Homo sapiens: one gene and its partner. The protein of the gene in region 2 interacts with the protein of the main gene of each other region in a pairwise test. Each region holds a gene or a part of one and is shown on either strand. Other genes may lie near its edges. The genes, in order: PBX4 and CPNE7.

Region 1 (9,322 bases), on a different chromosome or scaffold from region 2:
GCTCCAGGCTTGTGCATTTCAGGGAGGAGCAGTTGCTGTCTCATCCCTGTCCTACTGTACCCCAAAACATACCCTGTACCCAGATGTTTGAGCCAGTCAGTGGGAAGAAAGCATTAGCTTCCAAGGAAATGCCCAGGTGGCCGGTGCTCTGAGCCCTGCAGCGGCCTTGGGACTCAGCTTGGAGGAATCAAAAGTCCTGAGTGGCCAGGCACAGTGGCGCCTGCCTGTAACCCCACACCTTGGGAGGCTGAGGCAGGAGGATCACTTGAGCTCAGGAGTTCAAGGCCAACCTGGGCAACATACTAAGACCTCATCCCCCCAAAAATAGTCCTCAGCGACCCCTAGACATGGTGGTGTGTGCGGAAGCTGAGGTGTGAGGATCACTTGAGCCCAGGAGTTTGAAGCCAATCTGGGCAACACAGTGAGACTCTGTGTCTTAATTAAAAAAAAAAAAAAATAAAAAATAAAAAATTAAAAATGTCGCCGGGCATGGTGGCACATGGCTGTAATCCCAGCACTTTGGGAGGCCGAGGCGGGCGGATCACCTGAGGTCAAGAGTTCAAGACCAGCCTGACCAACAGGGTGAAACCCTGTCTCTACTAAATACAAAAAATTAGCCGGGTGTGGTGGCAGATGCCTGTAATCCCAACTACTCGGGAGGCTGAGGCAGGAAAATTGCTTGAACCTGGGAGGCAGTGAGCCGAGATTGCGCCATTGCACTCCAGCCTAGGCAACAAGAGTGAAACTCTGTCTAAAAAAAAAAAAAAAAGAGTCCTGAGCATGGCCCTCAAAGCCTAGGCAGATGGGGGTAGGGAGGTGGGGCGACACCAGCGGTTGAAATGGACAGACATCTCAGCTGCACTGGCAACAGTTGGTATCAACTCTTGTTTTCCCTCCTGAAACTGCTGAATTTGAGACTAACAGACTCATGCAGTAACATCCACACAGGGGCAGATGGAATTATGAAGAGGCGTGCCCAGGCTGAACACCCACACTCTCAAAAATTGGTTTCTCGTTCAGCCCCAGCAGCTCACTGGTAGGAAGGTCAAGAATGACAGCTTCCTGAGACTACAGTTGATTAAAGTACTTTTTTTTTTTAGACAGGGTCTCACTCTGTCACCCAGGCTGGAGTGCAGTGGCGCAATGTCATCTCACTGCAACCTCTGCCTCCTGGGTTCAAGTGATACTCCTGCCTCAGCCTCCTGAGTAACTGGGATTACAGGCGCATGCCACCACGCCCAGCTAATTTTTGTATTTTTAGTAGAGACGGGGTTTCATCATGTTGGTCAGGCTGGTCTCGAACTCCTGATCTCAGGTGGTCCAACTGCCTCGGCCTCCCAAAGTGCTGGGATTACAGGCGTGAGCCACCGCACCCAGCCTTTAAAAAGTACTTTTTAAAATAGTTTTTTATTATTACTAAATTCCAGATGTTGCATTGCTAAACATCCGCTGTGGGCAGTGGGGAGCCCCCAAAGGCTGCTTCCTGGGGTCAGGGTCAGGGGTGAGCAAGGGACAACTTGGGCTGCCTGTGCCTATTGGTACACATGCCTCAGCAAGTGGTCCTGACACTGGCTTATTTTTATTAGGTGAAAAGTGAAAGGGACCAACATTACACAATTCCACAATACTAAGAAACACGTGACCACAGCCAGTGTCTCCAGGGGGTGGATACACATTGGCTGTGTCCTTCTGAGCGGCTTCCCTCAGCCTGCAGTACTTGGGGCTCATTCGGGTACAGGGCCCCCGCTTGTCCAGCTTACCACACGAATGCTGAAGCACCATCAGGGAGTGCTGCCAGGGAGTTGAGGGCAAATTTGCTTAAAACCAGTTCACCGCTAACAAGAAACTTGTGTGTCTGGTTCCCCAGGAAAGCCTAACCTTTGTGTTTCCATTTCCATGGCATCTGCTCCCCACAATTTAAATAAGGAACAGATAAGACAGGTCATCAGATATTTACATACCCATGAGAGGCATATGAGGTGGGCAGGAAGCCAGGGGCATCACAGCCCAGCATCTGGCCCCGTCGGGAGGATGACCTGGCACTGGGTGTTGGAGACCAACAGGGGGCATATCATGTGGGGGCTGTCAGCAGCAGCAGTCTGCTGGGGGGTGGGGACAAGGAGGGGTCTGCTTGGCTGGGGGATTAAGTATACTTGGGGGTGAAGGAGGTGGGAGATTGATTACACAAGCAAAAGTACTGAGGACAACAGGAGCAGGCTCTCACTGTTGGAGGAAGGAGTCACAAACCTGGGAAGAGAGAAAAATAGTGGGAACCCTGTGGTGAACTAGAATTAAAGATATTGGAGTGGGCCAGGTACAGTGGCTCATGCATGTAATCCCAGCACTTTGGGAGGCCAAGGTGGGAGTATTGCTTGAGCCCAGGAGGTTGAGGCTGCAATGAGCTGTGACTTCACCACTGCATTCCAGCCTGGTGACAGAGTGAGACCCTGTCTCAAAAATAAAAATAAGCTGGGTGCGGTGGATCACATCTCTAATCCCAGCACTTTGGGAGGCTGAGGCGGGCAGGTCACTTGAGGTCAGGAGTTTGAGACGAGTCTGGCCAACATGATGAAACCCTGTCTCTACTAAAAATACAAAATTAGCCAGGCGTGGTGGTGCACACCATAATCCCAGCTACTCAGAGGCTGAGGCAGGAGAAATGCTTGAACCTGGGAGGCTGAGATTGCACCACTGCACTCCAGGCTGGGCAACAGAGTGAGAATAAATAAATAAATAAATAAATAAACAAACAAAAATAAAGATATCATAATGAACTCATGGTTTTTAATATATAAAAACATAGGAAAACAGATGTGAATGTGTGCGCACGTGTGTGTGTGTACACACGCATCTGTAATAACCCACAAATATTCCTTAGCTCTGTGTCCTAAGAGTGTCCAAGAGCAGCAACACCCCAACAGCAATGAGCACATCAAAGGCCAAGATTTACTCTGAAAGGAATCAGGGCTCCTTAGAGAATTGGGTGAAGCAGGCAGAGGCAGAACAGAATATGAGCCTGGTTGGGCACAGTGGCTCACACACATAATCCCAGCATTTTGGGAGGCCAGGAGTTTGAGACCAGCCTGGGCAACATGACAAAACCCTCTCTCTACAAAAAATACAAAAATTAGCTGGGCAACGTGGCTCGTGCCTGTAGTCCCAGCTACTTGGGAGGATGGGGTGTGAGGATCACCCACCCAGGAGGCTGAAGTGAGCCAAGATTATGTCACTGCCCTCCAGCCTGGGTGACAGAGTGAGACCCTGTCTCCAAAAAAAAAAAAAAAAGGCCAGGTGTGATGGCTCACGCCTGTAATCCCAGCACTTTGGGAGGCAGACAGGCAGGCGGATCACCTGAGGTCAGGAGTTCAAGACCAGCCTGGCCAACATGGTGAAACCCCATCTTTAATAAAAAATACAAAAAATTAGCTGGGTGTGGTGGCAGGCGCCTGTAATCCCGGCTACTCAGAGGCTGAGGCAGGAGAATTGCTTGAACCTGGAAGGCGGAGATTGCAGTGAGCCAAGATCGTGCCATTGCACTCCAGCCTGGGCAATAAGAGTGAAACTCCATCTCCAAAAAATAAAAATAAAAATAAATTTACACTGGGGAGGGTTAGGGACATCATGTCCTCATAGCATTTAGGCGAAACTTAAATGTAGATTTAAACTTGAATTTCTCCTTTAGTCACCAGATCTCTTCTGAAGGCTGGGCACCATGCCCACAGCCTTACATATATGAATTCACACAGCCCTCAACAGTCCTCAGTAACCATGAGCTAAGTATTATTATTGCCCCACAAATCAGAGGAGGACCAGGAACAGAGAAAGGTTCAGCCAAGGACCAGGGTCATGCAGCCAGAGGTGGAGGCAGAATTCAGACCCTCTTGCTGTTCTCAACTACTATATATGTCAAGTACACATCAATCTTGCACCAAAACAGTGTTCAGAAAGAAGCACACTTTTGTACAACATATACACACACTTTCCACAAGCCTCAGCAAATATGAAGTGCTATGCTCCAAAGTGACACACAAAATTCAAATAATTGACCTCAAGAGACCAACTCACTCTAAGAAATCAAGTGACACGTTGTGCAGATGACCCTTGGTTTAAATATCTTCATCTTATTTGGTGGCCCCACTTATAAGCTACTTTCAAATTGTTATTAACCTTGACCAAGTGATCAAGGTCAATGGTAGCAGTGACAGGACATATTGACAGCATGTTTTCCCTGACACAATGTGCTGAGGACACACACATTGCCTCTGTGGGACTCTGGCCACAGATGCACAACTTCAGTCCAATCTAGAGGAAACATCAGACAAACCGCACTGAGGGATGTTCTACAAAATGACTGAGCGCTTCTTAAAATGGTCAGCGTCATTCATGGATGACAAGGTCACAGATCACAGGAGACCAAAGAGACATGATGACTAAATACAACGTGGGATTCAGGGCAGAAAAGGGCATTAGGGCAAAAACTGGGGAACTCCAAATGAGGTCTGTAGTTCAGTTAAAGATCATTGTACTCAGCGTAATTTCCTGGTTTCCATATTTGTACTATGGCTCTGAAGGTGTTGACGAGACAGGAAGCCCGGAGAAGGAGATACGAGAACTCTCTGTACTATTTTTTCAACTTTTCTTTTTCTTTTCTTTCCTTTTTTTTTTTTTTTTTGAGACGGAGTCTTACTCTTCTTGCCCAGGCTGGAGTGCAATGGCGCGATCTCGGCTCACTGCAACCTCCACCTCCTGGGTTCAAGTGATTCTCCTGCCTCAGCCTCCCAAGTAGCTGGGATTACAGGCATGTGCCACCATGCCTGGCTAATTTTGTATTTTTAGTAGAGATGGGGGTTTCACCATCTTGGCCAGGCTGGTCTTGAACACCTGACCTCGTGATCCACCTGCCTCGGCCTCCCAAAGTACTGGGACTACAGGTATGAGCCACTGTGCCCAGCCGACAAAACTGTTCTTATTCAATTTCCCTAAGTCTGTCATTTTTCCTTTTTCTATATGACTGAATGCTAAGCACCTCTTAGGTCTTCGACCTAGAATGCAGCTGCTTGTTACTGATTTGCAACAGTATTTCTCAGTTATAAACTACAAAATAAATCAGTGTGCATACTGGAAACCAGGGCAATGATAAGGCAGAAAGAAAACATCCTAGCCGTCTTCTGCGAGACAGAAGGGATGAGCAAAACGGCCCACCATGCACATAAGGGCTGAGACAAGATCAGAGGTGTGCTGCCGCAGCTCTAGTCACACACAGGAAGTGCCTTTTTTTTTTTTTTTTTTTTTGAGACAGAATTTCACTCTTGTTGCCCAGGCTGGAGTGCAATGGCGTGATCTTGGCTCACCGCACACTCTTGTTGCCCAGGCTGGAGTGCAATGGCGCGATCTTGGCTCACCGCAACCTCCACCTCCCAGGTTCAAGCGATTCTCCTACCTTAGCCCCCCGAGTAGCTGGGATTACCGGCATGCGTCACCACGCCTGGCTAATTTTTGTATTTTTAATAGAGACAGGGTTTCTCCATGTTGGTCAGGCTGGTCTGGAATCCAGCCTCAGGTGATCTGCCCGCCTCCGCCTCCCAATGTGCTGGGATTACAGGCATGAGCCACCACGCTCGGCCAGAAAGTGTCTTCTAAACAGCCTACCTGTCTTTTCCTTGATCTCACAGAGCACGCTGAACAGAGCAGGCTTCATCCGATGGCAATTCAGAGCATGCTTTCTGAAAGGGAGGTGACAGAGGAGGGTGTGAGAAAAGAATAGTCATCATCTTGTCCCCAAGAGTAAAGATCTTCCATACTGAGAAATCAAACCAAACGAGATCTGCCACTCTGACTGTAGATAAGTCGCCTTATGAAAATGCAGTACAATCATATTTCATGTGAATTTGATTTGCACAAAATCAATATAAAGGCCAGCCGTGGTGGCTCACGCCTGTAATCCCAGCACTTTGGGAGGTCGAGGCAGGTGGATCACTTGAGGTCAGGAGTTTGAGACCAGCCTGGCCAGCATGGTGAAACCCTATCTCTATTAAAAATACAAAACTTGGCCAGGCACAGTGGCTCATGCCTATAATCCCAGAACTTTGGGAGGCCAAGGCAGGCGGATTGCCTGAGGTCAGGAGTTCGAGACCAGCCTGGCCAGCATGGTGAAACCCTGTCTCTACTAAAAATACAAAAATTAGTTGGGCATGGTGGTGCCCACCTGTAATCCCAGTTACTCAGGAGGCTGAGGCAGGAGAATTGCTTAGACCCGGGAGGCAGAGGTTGCAGTGAGCCGAGATCAGGCCACTGCACTCCAGCCTAAGTGACAGAGTGAGACTCCATCTCAAAAAAAAAAAAAAAAAAAATTCGCCAGGAACAGTGTCATGCACCTGTAATCCCAGCTACTCAGGTGGGTGAGGCAGGAGAAATGCTTAAACCTTGGAGGCAGAGGTTGCAGTGAGCCAAGATTGTGCCACTGTACTCCAGCCCAGGCAATAGAGTGAGACTCTGTCTCAATAATAATAATAATAATAATGTAAAGCAATATACAAATATTCAAAACATTTCCCACTATATGCAAAAGTTTAAACAATGCAAATAACTCATCAAAAACTATGGTAAGGCATTAGTGGCTCATGTCTGTAATCTCAACGCTTTGGGAGGCCAAGGCAGGAGGACCACTTGAGCCCAGAAATTTAAGATCGGCCTGGGCAACATGGTGAGACCCATTCTCTTCAAAAATTTAAAAATTAGCTGGGCATGGTGGTATGCCTGTAGTCCCAATCCCTCAGGAGGCTGAGACAGGAGGATGGCTTGAGACCATGAGTTAGAGGCTGTAGTGAGCTATGAACATGCCACTGTACTCCAGCCAGCATAACAGAGGCCTTGTCATTAAGAAAAAAAAAAAAAGGCCAGAGGCAGTGGCTCATGCCTGTAATCCCAGCACTTTGGGCGGCCGAGGCGGATGGATCGCCTGAGGTCAGGAATTTGAGACCAGCCTGGCCAACATGGTGAAACCCCGTCTCTACTAAAAGTACAAAAAAGCTGGGCGTGGTGGTGCACACCTGTAATCCCAGCTACTCGGGAGGCTGACACAGGAGAATTGCTTGAACCAGGGAGGCAGAGGTTGCAGTGAGCTGAGATCGCACCAGTGAACTCCAGCCTGGGCAACAGAGAGAGACTCCATCTCAAAAAAAAAAAAAAAAAAGAAAGAAAAAAAAAGAACTATGAAATATCAAGGTCCAACAACTTGAAATCTGTGTTCACACTATGGTCCTGCAGTGGTGTATCCTGGTGCCTAAGCAGAAGCACCAATCATCCTCTTCCAGTGTCACTTGGCAGGTGTTTACTGAGTACCTACTATGTGCCACACACCATTCTGGCATCAGAGACACAGACAGGTAAGGTTTTTACACATGTGGCAGTTAAGAGGGAGGGAGTGAGACACCAAAAATACACACCAACAAGAAACCCATCAGCCGTGGCAGTTGCTCTGGGGCAACTGGGGTCACATGACAGTGATGGTTAGAAGGCTTTTTGGAATTTCCATGTCTCTGAGGTGACATCAAAGCTGAGATCAGAATGAGAAGGAGAAATCAACCAAGAAAAGGACTGGAGAGAGGTATGGTTTAGGCAGAAGAAACAGCCAAGCACAAAGGCCCTGTGAGAACACACTGGGTTCAGTACTGGCTGTTTGAGACCAGGCTGCTGAGTGTTAGGGGTGAGGGAGAGAGCTACGAGAAGTTAGACTGGCAAGTGGAGATTGACTCTAAGGGCCTTGAAAGTCATGGGGACAACTCTGGCTTTTGCTTGCTTGGGTTGGGAACTATGGTTGGCAGGATAATGGCTCCCAAAAGGGTCCACATGCTTATCCTCAGAACCCTAAATATGGTACTTTACAAAAAATGGGAAAAATAATTCTGCCAATGTAATTAAGTTTAAGGACCTTGAGATGGAGAGATTAACCCGGATTATCTGGGGGGGCCTACTGTCATCACATGACCCTTAAAGGTAGAGAACCTTTCCCAGATGTGGGCAGAGAAAGTCATGATGATGTAAGGGTTGGAGAGATACTATGTTGCTGGCCTTGATCATGGAGGAAGGGACCATGAGCAAGGAATGCAGGTGGCCTCAACAGGCTGGAAAAGGCAAGGAACCAGCCCATGGGCTCACTGGGCAACACCTTGATTTTAGCCCACTGTGCCCATGTGGGCTTTCTGACCTACCGAAATGTAAAATCGGTGGCTCATGCCTGTAATTCTAGCATTTTGGGAGGCCGAGGCAGGCAGATCGCTGGAGCTCAGGAGTTTGAGACCAGCCTGGGCAACATGGCGAGACAATGAGCTGGGACAAGAGGCACGCACCAACACACCTGGCTAAATTCTGTATTTGTTGTAGAGACAGGGTCTCGTTATGTTGCCCAGGCTGCGCTCAGCCAAGAGAAGAATTTCATGGAGAGAAGAGTAATCTGTGAGAAATGCTGCTGAGAGATCAAGCAGAATAAGAACCCAGAAGAGAATCTGAGGCTGGGCACGGTAGCTCACGCCTGTAATCTCAGCACTATGGGAGGCTGAGGTGGGAGGACCAGTCTAGGCAACATAGCAAGAACCTGTCTCTAATAAATAAATAAATAAATGAATAAAGAGAATTCGGATTTAGCAACATGAAGGTCATAGGTGACTCAGCGGAGAGGGAACAAGGTTGGGAGAGAATGTGGAGGTGAGGAGGAAGCGGAAGCAGCAATCACAAAGTCTTTGATGTTTATCATAAGGGAGATCAAACAAACATAACAGGTGCTAAAAGACAGGGTGTGTGTTAATCATGTTTTTTTTCTTTTTCTTTTTGAGACAGGGTCTTACTCTGTTGCCCAGGCTGGACTGCAGTGGCCATGCTGTGCCCGAACTCAAGCAATCCTCCCGCCTCAGCTCCTGAGTAGCTGGGACTACGGGTGGTGCTACCATGCCTGGCTAATTTTTAAAAAATGTTTTTGCAGAGCTTAAGTCTCACTATATTGCCCAGGCTGTTCTTGAACTCCTAGACTCAAGAGATCCCCCCGCCTTGGCCCCTCAAAGTATTGGGATTATAGGCATGAGCCTGGACTATTAATTATGTTTTTTTTTTATCTTGCTTTGACATTGTGGGGCTTGGAGTGACTGCCCTTCCCAGGGCTAGCTTATTACTACAGACAGCAAACAACTTGCCAAAGAACATGCCATTCATATGCAAATCAACCAATCAAAAGCCCACATTCCCAATCATCTTCTTCATTTAATGCTCACACACAAAGCCAATAATTTCCCAGCCCTAAATCACCCCAGGGCCAGGTACTGACCAACTA
Region 2 (9,322 bases):
GTGGGAAGAATTACCTGTTTGCAAGGCAGTCTCTGGTCCAGGCCTACAAGCACCCACGGCTGTGCCCAGCCTGGCTCTCGGCCTCCAGATAAACAGCCCAGCCTCAGAAAGCCCCCCACCCCCTCCCAACCCCAGATGAGGCCCCCACCCCCCTCTGCCAACTGTGCGAGCACCAGGCACCAAAACCCACCGTGGGGCCCCACTAGGGCGGGAGCTTCGTGTCCAGGAGAGGGACCGAGGGCTCAGCTGATCATGTCTGAGTCCTCGTTTCAACCCAATTCTAACCACAGAAAACCATGTCACGGGTAAGACAACAGGAAACACAAACACCAGACGGATGTGCAATGCCAGGAGTGGTGGTTAGGTGTGATCAGGTGTCGTGGCTGCTTAAAAAGAGGCTTATCTTTATTAGACGCTGATACTGACATTTACAGATGAAACCGTCTGAGACCCGCTTCCCAGCCACACAGGAACATAACAGCTGAACGCAATCCTCGACTCCGGACTGGCTCCTGGGCCAGGAACAATACTGCTTTGAAAGTTATGATTGTGCCAATGAATGAAATTGGAATATAGTCTATGTATTAGATAAAAGGATTGTATCTAAATTCAATTTCCTGAAATCTGTATTTGTGCTATGGTTATACAAGAGAATATCTTTGATCTTAGGAAATATACACTGAAATAGTAAGAGGTAGGCCGGGCGCGGTGGCTCACGCCTGTAATCCCAGCACTTTGGGAGGCCGAGGTGGGCGGATCACGAGGTCAGGAGATCGAGACCATCCTGGCTAACACAGTGAAACCCCGTCTCTACTAAAAATACAAAAAATTAGCCGGGCGTGGTGGCGGGCGCCTGTAGTCCCAGCTATTTGGGAGGCTGAGGCAGGAGAATGGCGTGAACCCGGGAGGCGGAGCTTGCAGTGAACCAAGATCGCGCCACTGCACTCCAGCCTGGGTGAAGAGCGAGACTCCATCTCAAAAAAAAAAAAATATTAAGAGGTAAAACCGTGATGTTGCAACGTGCTCTCGGACGGTTCACAAATGTGTGTGTGCAGTGCCAAGTTTTTTAAAAAGCATCAAAGTCTTTATCACGATACTATCTGTATAAATTAAAAATAGATGCAAACAGATATAGGGTTCCCATTTGGCTTGAAGATGTAAGTAGACGGGTGATGTTTGATCATCATGAATGTACCTCGTGCCTCTGAACTGGATACAATAAAATGGTTACAGGCCAGGTGCGGCGGCTCACACCTGTAATCCCATCCCAGCACTTTGGGAGGCTGAGGCAGGCAGATCACTTGAGGTCAGGAGTTTGAGACCAGCCTGGCCAAGACAGTGAAACCCCATCTCTACAAAAATATAAAAATTAGCCGGGTATGGTGGCGGGCGCCTGTACTCCCAGCTACTCAGGAGGCTGAGTCAGGAGAATGGCGTGAACCCGGGAGGCGGAGCTTGCAGTGAGCCGAGATCACGTCACTGCACTCCAGCCTGGGTGACAAGAGTAAAACTCCATCTCAAAAAAAAAAAAAAAAAAAGAAAAGAAAAAAATGGTTACAATGGTAAATTTTAAACTGTGCATATTTTATCACAATAAAAAAAATTTGGGCTGGGCGCGGTGGCTCACTCCTGTAATCCCAGCACTTTGGGAGGCCGAGGCGGGTGGATCACAAGGTCAGGAGTTTAAGACCAGCCTGGCCAAGACTGTGAAACCCCGTCTCTACTAAAAATACAAAAAATTAGCCGGGCGTGGTGGCGGGAGCCTGTAATCCCAGCTACTCGGGAGGCTGAGGCAGGAGAATTGCTTGAACTCGGAGGGTGGAGCTTGCAGTGAGCCGAGATTGCACCACTACAGCTTGGGTGACAGAGCAGGACTCTATCTCAAAAAAAAAAAAAAAAATTGAAAAAGAAAACATACAAATACAACAACTACACAGACGTGAAGCAGGAGCGCAATGTGTGAGCAGCTGTTGGCCTCACGGGTTGCAGGACCTCAGAGCTCTTGTAACTTTTTGGTGAGTTTAAAATTATTTTGGGCCGGGCGCGGCGGCTCACACCTGTAATCCCAGCACTTTGGGAGGCCGAGGCGGGTGGATCACGAGGTCAGGAGATCGAGACCATCCTCGCTAACACGGTGAAACCCCGTCTCTACTAAAAATACAAAAAAAAAAAATTAGCCGGGCATGATGGTGGGCGCCTGTAGTCCCAGCTACTTAGGAGGCTGAGGCAGGAGAATGGCGCGAACCTGGGAGGGGGAGGTTGCAGTGAGCGGAGATTGCGCCACTACACTTCCAGCCTGGGTGACAGAGCGAGACTCCGTCTCAAAAAAAAAAAACAACAAAAAAAAGAATGCCGGGCACGGTGGCTCACGCCTGTAATCCCAGCACTTTGGGAGGCCGAGGCGGGTGGATCATGAGGTCAGGAGTTTGAGACCAGCTTGGCCAACAGGGTGAAACCCCGTCTCTACTAAAAATACAAAAATTAGCCAGAAGTGGTGGCGGGCGCCTGTAGTCCCAGCTCCTTGGGAGGCTGAGGCAGGAGAATGGCGTGAACCCCGGGAAGCAGAGGTTGCAGTGAGCTGGGATCACATCACTGCACTCCAGCCTGGGTGACAGAGTGAGACTCTGTCTCACAAAAAACAAAAGAAAAGAAAAGAAAGCAGCAGGCTGGCTGTGGCCCCAGAGACACATACAGGGCCACACGGTGGCAGAGTAGAATCCAGTGCAGTTCTCGGCACCGTATCATTTGTGCAAAGGAAAGACACATGTAAACAAAATGACGATACACACACAGCCAAACAGTAGACATGTGCGCGGCCTTGTGGTGCCCAGAGGAAGAGGAGAGGGGCAGCCTCGCTGCAGCCATGGCCGTGACCGTGTGAGGCGATGGACAGCCCTGTGCCCGAGACACCTGCACCTTTGAGGGAGACGTAGTCAACCAGCTGGGCCCCCGCCCTCCTGAGCTCTGTCCTGCCTGGGGGCCTCTGCGCTGGCTGTTCCCTCTGCCAGGTGCCTCCCTGACGTCCACGCGCTGGTGCACACACAGCCGACCCCACACCAAGCATGCACCACACCCCCCGGGCACCTACAGAGGCTTTCCCGGTGCTCTCCTCGGCCGCCGCCACGCGTGCCACCTTGGAGATGATGGGCGCCACGTTGGTGGGGCCGTAGAGCTGGACCCTGGGCAGGCAGTTCTGGTAGGCCTCCACCACGCCCTGGATGCCTGTGGGGGGCAGGGGGTGAGCCCGGCCCCCCTGCACTCCCCTCCCCAGGCCTGCCTCGAGCTCCTACCTTCACACTCATCGTCCTCAGGGTTGAAATTGATGGCAAAGTCATGGGACACCTGGGTGGGAACAAGAGGGCTCAGTCAGCTGCTCGTTGCAACACACCCCACTGGCCCCATGTCCCTCGGTCAGCTGCTCCCCCCGTCCCCAGCCCCCATGTCCCCCAGTCAGCTGCTCCCCCCGTCCCCGCCCTCATGTCCCCCGCCTACTAAAGAGGGCTCGGTCAGCTGCTCCCCCCGTCCCCGGCCCCCATGTCCCCCAGTCAGCTGCTCCCCCCGTCCCCGGCCCCCATGTCCCCCAGTCAGCTGCTCCCCCGACCTGGCCCCCATGTCCCCCACCTACTGAGAGAGGTAGGCTTGGAGTTTCTAGGGGAAGCCAAACCCATGGGTGACCATGTTCTGCAGAGTCATGAAACAGAGAGGGAGGCAGACCTCCCTGGATCCAGCAGTGCCTGAGGCTTACATTAGCCAATAAATCCCCACACACCATTTTTTCTGCTGAAGCCAGTTGAAGTTTTTTGTTGTTTTCTTTTTTCTTTTTTAAAACAGAGTCTTGCTCTACAGGCCAGGCTGGACTGCAGTGGTGCGATCTCAGCTCAGTGCAACCTCTGCCTCCCGGGTTCAAGCAATTCTCTTGCTTCAGCCTCCCGAGTAGCTGGGATTACAAGCATGTGCCACCACGCCCAGCTAATTTTTGTATTTTTGGTAGAGATGGGGTTTCACCATGATGGCCAGGCTGGTCTGGAACTCCTGACCTCAGGTAATCGGCCCGCCTCGGCCTCCCAAAGTGCTGGGATTACAGGCGTGAGCCACCACGCCTGGCCGAAGCTAGCTGAATTGTTATGTGCAATAGAGGATTCCACACTAACGTCCTTCCCTATCTCCTGAAGGAACACGGAGTTGGCCTCCAGACACCCCTCAAGCTAACAAGTCCTAGGAGGCCAAAGGCCAGCCTCTCTGGCTAGAAGGCTGGGGTTCCCGCTTTGCACCCCAATCCCATCCTACAGTCTCCGGTTCCCAGCAGGCAGCCAGGGCTCCCTGGGCCAGGCCGTCCTCTGCCTGGGAGGGCACGAGAAGGGCACAGCTCTGAGGTCTCAGGTTCTGGGCTCTCCTACCTCATACTTGGGAGGGATCCGGGCTCCAAACCCCAAAGCGGAAAACCTCTTGTCACTGGAAGAGAGGCAGGAGGTCACCAGGAGGCCCTGACCTCTTGTGGCTGCAACAGGGGCCACTTCTAGGGAGACATGACTGGCGCCCAAAAGACTGGGGGTGCCCAGGCCTGGTACCACGGCAGTAAGCACCTGCCAGAGGTGGGGAACCGAGGCTCAGGGCAGCAGAGGCACAGGCCTGTGTGCAAGGGGACACGGTCCTGCCGCCCGCGAGCCTGCCTCCCAACTCCACGTTTGTGTACATGCTGTCCCCCTGCAGACGCCTCCCCGGGGGCTCTCAGACCACGGGAGGGGTCCTGTGGGGCCAAGGAACCCACTGTGGCCCTCACCAACCCAGAAAGAGAGGTCTGTAGGGTAGGGAGCTCAGGGCATCCTCTCCCAAGCCCCAGGCCAGGGGTCTGTGTTGTGGTAAGAAGCTCAGAGCACAGGGTTTTGTGCCGGGCCCTCCCTGGTAAAGCATACGCGGGTGAGCCCCAAGCCTCTGTGACTTCGGTTTGCTATTCTGGCAAAGCGGGACACAGACGTCCCCCCAGGACCATGTGCAGAGTCTATGCGGCAGCCTCCAGTAGGGCTACCCAGCCCTTCCTCGCAGAGTCTCTTTTTTTTGAGACGGAGTCTTGCTCTGTCACCCAGGCTTGAGTACAAAGGTGTGATCTTGACTCACTGTAACCTCCGCCTCCCGGGTTCCAGTGATTCTCCTGCCTCAGCCTCCTGAGTAGCTGGGATTACAGGCATCTGCCACCACGCCCAGCTAATTTTTGTATTTTCAGTAGAGATGGGGTTTCACCATGTTGGCCAGGCTGGTCTCAAACTCCTGACCTCAGGTGATCCACCCGCCTCGGCCTCCCAAAATGCTGGGATTACAGGCATGAGCTACCGCGCCCGGCCCCTCACAGTCTGACAAACTCACAGTGCCCACCTCATGGTGCCCCGAGGCCTGACCTGGAGCCCAGGGGGGTGAGGGAAAACCGGCCGGGTGCACCTGTCATAGCTGACCTGGAGACCAGGGGGGTGAGGGGGAAGACGGCCAGGCGCACCTGTCATAGCTGACCTGGAGACCAGGGGGTGAGGGGAAGGTGGTGGGCGCACCTGTCATAGTCCTGGCAGATCTCGCCCACGGACACCAGTGCCTTCAGGTACTCGTTCGGCTGGTAGGGGTTGATGTAGTGCAGGGAGCAGCTGTTCCGCGGGTCTCCATTGGAGGCGGTGAAGTCAATGGCCACCTGCAGTGGGCCGGGAGCCAGGAGCTGTGCTGGGCCGGGGCTCCCCGAACCCGCTCCTGACAGGTAGAGAAACCACGCCCAGAGTGGCCAGGACTCAGGGTCAGGGGTCGCGTAGGTGGGTAGGGCTGGGGGGCTGCTGTTGGGGCTGACCCACCTGCTACACAGGGCCAGGAGAGGTCTCCTCAAAACCTGCCAGCCCCTAGGCTCCCTGGATCTCCGGGAGGACACCCCACCAGGATCACCCTGGCCTTGTGGGGGCCCCGCCCATCCTTCTTAGTGGCCGCCCAACCCCTCTACCACCCTCCCCGGCAGGGCCTAAGTGGACCAAGCCTGGTCTGGGTCCCCCCACGTTTCCCACTTGCTGGCTTCTCCCAAAGCCATTCTGGGGCTCGTTCAACAAAACACGAACCAGCGCATCTGCAAATAACACGCGGGTGACACGGGGGCCGTGTATCTGTGGGTGACACGCGGGTGACACGGGGGCCGTGTATCTGTGGGTGACACGCGGGTGACACGGGGGCCGTGTATCTGTGGGTGACACGCGGGTGACACGGGGGCCGTGTATCTGTGGGTGACACGGGGGCCGTGTATCTGTGGGTAACACGGGGGGCCGTGTATCTGTGGGTGACACGCGGGTGACACGGGGGGCCGTGTATCTGTGGGTAACACGGGGGGCCGTGTATCTGTGGGTGACACGGGGGCCGTGTATCTGTGGGTAACACGGGGGGCCGTGTATCTGTGGGTGACACGCGGGTGACACGGGGGCCGTGTATCTGTGGGTGACACGCGGGTGACACGGGGGGCCGTGTATCTGTGGGTAACACGGGGGCCGTGTATCTGTGGGTGACACGCGGGTGACACGGGGGGCCGTGTATCTGTGGGTGACACGGGGGCCGTGTTTCTGTGGGTGACACGCGGGTGACACGGGGGCCGTGTATCTGTGGGTGACACGGGGGTGCTATGGGGGTGACACGGGGTGTGCGTATCTATGGGTGACGCGGGGTCTGCGGGTGACATGGGGGTGACACGGGGTCTGTGCCGGGCTCCTTGGATGACACGTAGAGACTGTGGCTGGTTCACTCAAACGCTCACTCCAGTTTCTCCTCGTTCACGTTTTGTCTGTTGTTAAATGTGTTTGTGGAAGGTAAGCCCTGGTGATGTCACCTCCCAAGGCGGGCTTGGGGCTGCTTCCTGAACCCCAAGCCCGTTTCCTCGCCTGCGCAAAAGGGAGGACCCCCAGGAGCCGCGCATGGAGACATCGGCTCACGGGGAACCGCCAGTGCCCTTTCACCCGCCAGGCTGGGACCCCTCGGGAGCGGGGCGGGGGCGGGGGCGGGGGCGGGGCCACGGACTGAGGGGGCGGGGATGGGCGGGGCCACAGACTGAGGGGGCGGGGATGGGCGGGGCCACAGACTGAGGGGGCGGGAGGGGCGGGGCCACGGACTGAGGGGGCGGGGATGGGCGGGGCCACAGACTGAGGGGGCGGGGAGGGGCGGGGCCACGGACTGAGGGGGCGGGGCGGGGCGGGGCCACGGACTGAGGGGGCGGCATGGGGCGGGGCCATGGACTCACGGTGAAGTGGATCTGGCAGCCGCCCATGATATAGTCCAGGAAGGAGTACACCCTGTGGAACTTCCGGCCGGCGGAGTCAGCGTCCACCCCCGCCAGGGACACTGAGGCCAGTGCCAGCTGGGATCCAGGCCTGCCTCCCGCAGGCAGCCCAGTCCCTCTGGGGTGCCACCCTCCTCTCCTCTCCCCCATCCTCTCTCCCCAACCTCGCCCTTCCCCGTCTCTCAGCCCCTCCCCAGACGTGCTGGGGCCCACCAGGCCTCTGGTTGAGGGTCCATCCAACAATCAGAGGGAGGCAGCGGAAGCCCCTCTTGTGGGTGGGGAGGCTTCGGGCACAGCCACCTCTCACCTTGAGGTCAGCCAGGACGACCACTCCTGAGTTCTTATAACTGCGTCTCTTCTGCTTGTATTTGGGGTTCACACAGTCCCACTGGGCCTGGGGCAGGAACAAGCAGAGGCCCCCCAGAGTGGTGGCTCTGAACACCTACCAGGGAGACCCTACCCAAGACCATCCCCAATAGCGACGGCAGAGGGCCCCGTGGTGGGGAGGGGAGGGGAGGGCACTGCTGCAGGGCAGCAGGAAGGGGCAGAGTGGGTCATACGGGAATGAAGAGGGATGGGAGTTGCATCCCCCACCCGGCATGGCCCTGTCATTAAGCCCAAGGACACTGAGGCCCAGGGACGGGGGAGGAAGCAGGGCCCAGGGTGGCCTCCCCACTGCACCCTCACCCGGCTGCTGTGGGCTGGGCAGACACAGGGGAGGGCACCCCTTGGCCCCACCTCCCACCACCCCTGTGCCCAGACCCAGATGGTGCCTGAAATGTCCAGCTGAACCTGATGGGGGCCACCCCTGCTATGACCCCTCAGGAGCCAGCACCAGGGTCCACCATCCTCAGCCTTCTCTGGTTATAACAAGTCATTGTCACCACTCCCCACAACCCCATCAGGACAGTGGGACAGGGTTTCACAGCCTCTGTGGCAGGGCCAACACAGGCGTAGCCCAGGTGTGCCCCCGACTCACCTGCCCCTCCCCAGAGGCCCCCCTCACCTGCCCCTCCCTGAATGCCCCCTCCCCCTGCTAACTGCCCCTCCCTGGAGGCCCCCCTCACCTGAACCTCCCCAAAGGCCCCCCCAACCTGCTCCTCCCCAGAGGTGCCCACCCACATGCCCCTCCACGGAGGCCCCTACCCCACCCCCCACCTCCTCACCTGACACTTCCTGGAGGTACCCCCCCAGTCCTGCTCACCTACCCCTCCCCGAAGGCCCCCCTCCACCCCCACCTGACCCTCCCTGGAGGACCCCCTACCCCGTCCTGCTCACCTGCCCCTCCTCAAAGGCCTTCTGCATCTCCTCGAAGGTGGTAGAGAATTCTCCGATGAAGTCGTGCTTTCCTCGAGAGTCGTAATCCCAGACCAGGCACTGGGGAGCCCAGTCCTCCTCAGCACTGCTGTCTGGGGGCCCCAGGACCCTCCCACCCGAGCCCAGGTGTCTCCATCGCAGCCCACATCCAGGCCACCCCCTCACTGCCCCCTTGGTCCATCCCGTCCCCCACCTTTAGAGGCCTTGTCTCCTCGCAGCTGCAGAGGGAACTCAGAGAGACTTTGAAGGCCTCCCACACCGGGTTCAGGTTGTTCTTCACCACCTGTGGGCCGGGAGGGGCTGGCTCAGGGGAGGCCCAGGGCCCTGGGATCCTTGGGGGGGATAGAGACCTGGGTGGAAGAGCAGCTGTGAGGCGGGCACAGCTGGCCCTGCCCCTGCATCACCCCAGACAGCGCCGGGGCCCTGAGCTGGGGCTGGCACCCACTCCCTGCACGAAGCCATGTGAGGACCCGGGAGACACATTTCCGAGCCCTGTGCCTCCACCTTCGTAACTTCTGCCACCTCTGAGCCACCTGCGCTGCTCTCTTCCTTAAATAGATTCATTTTCACTCAAGTTAATTTCTCTCAAAAGAAAGCACTCTCTCCCTGCCGTCGCTGAAATCCCATTTCACCTGCAGGAAGTGGAAGGTAGGTCTAAAAATAATCACAGCCACGACTACACAAGCCTGCTGGATTCTGGCCACAGCCACGGCCCCCAGG

What was found.
Region 1: the proteins of CPNE7 (region 2) and PBX4 interact in binary tests that used the Homo sapiens proteins (3 or more experiments, as listed by UniProt).

The regions. Positions count from the first base shown.
Region 1 is NC_000019.10:19,593,643-19,602,964, forward strand, and holds part of PBX4 (pre-B-cell leukemia transcription factor 4), read right to left. Parts: intron 5,727-9,322; exon of another isoform or gene 5,724-5,726; coding exon 5,650-5,723; intron 1-5,649.
Region 2 is NC_000016.10:89,585,027-89,594,348, reverse strand, and holds part of CPNE7 (copine-7), read right to left. Parts: intron 8,886-9,322; coding exon 8,796-8,885; intron 8,663-8,795; coding exon 8,564-8,662; intron 7,680-8,563; coding exon 7,593-7,679; intron 7,307-7,592; coding exon 7,247-7,306; intron 6,794-7,246; coding exon of another isoform or gene 6,755-6,793; exon of another isoform or gene 5,675-6,754; coding exon 5,541-5,674; intron 4,453-5,540; coding exon 4,398-4,452; intron 3,343-4,397; coding exon 3,291-3,342; intron 3,223-3,290; coding exon 3,089-3,222; intron 2,152-3,088; coding exon of another isoform or gene 2,149-2,151; exon of another isoform or gene 385-2,148; intron 1-384. UniProt on the Homo sapiens protein: Calcium-dependent phospholipid-binding protein that may play a role in calcium-mediated intracellular processes.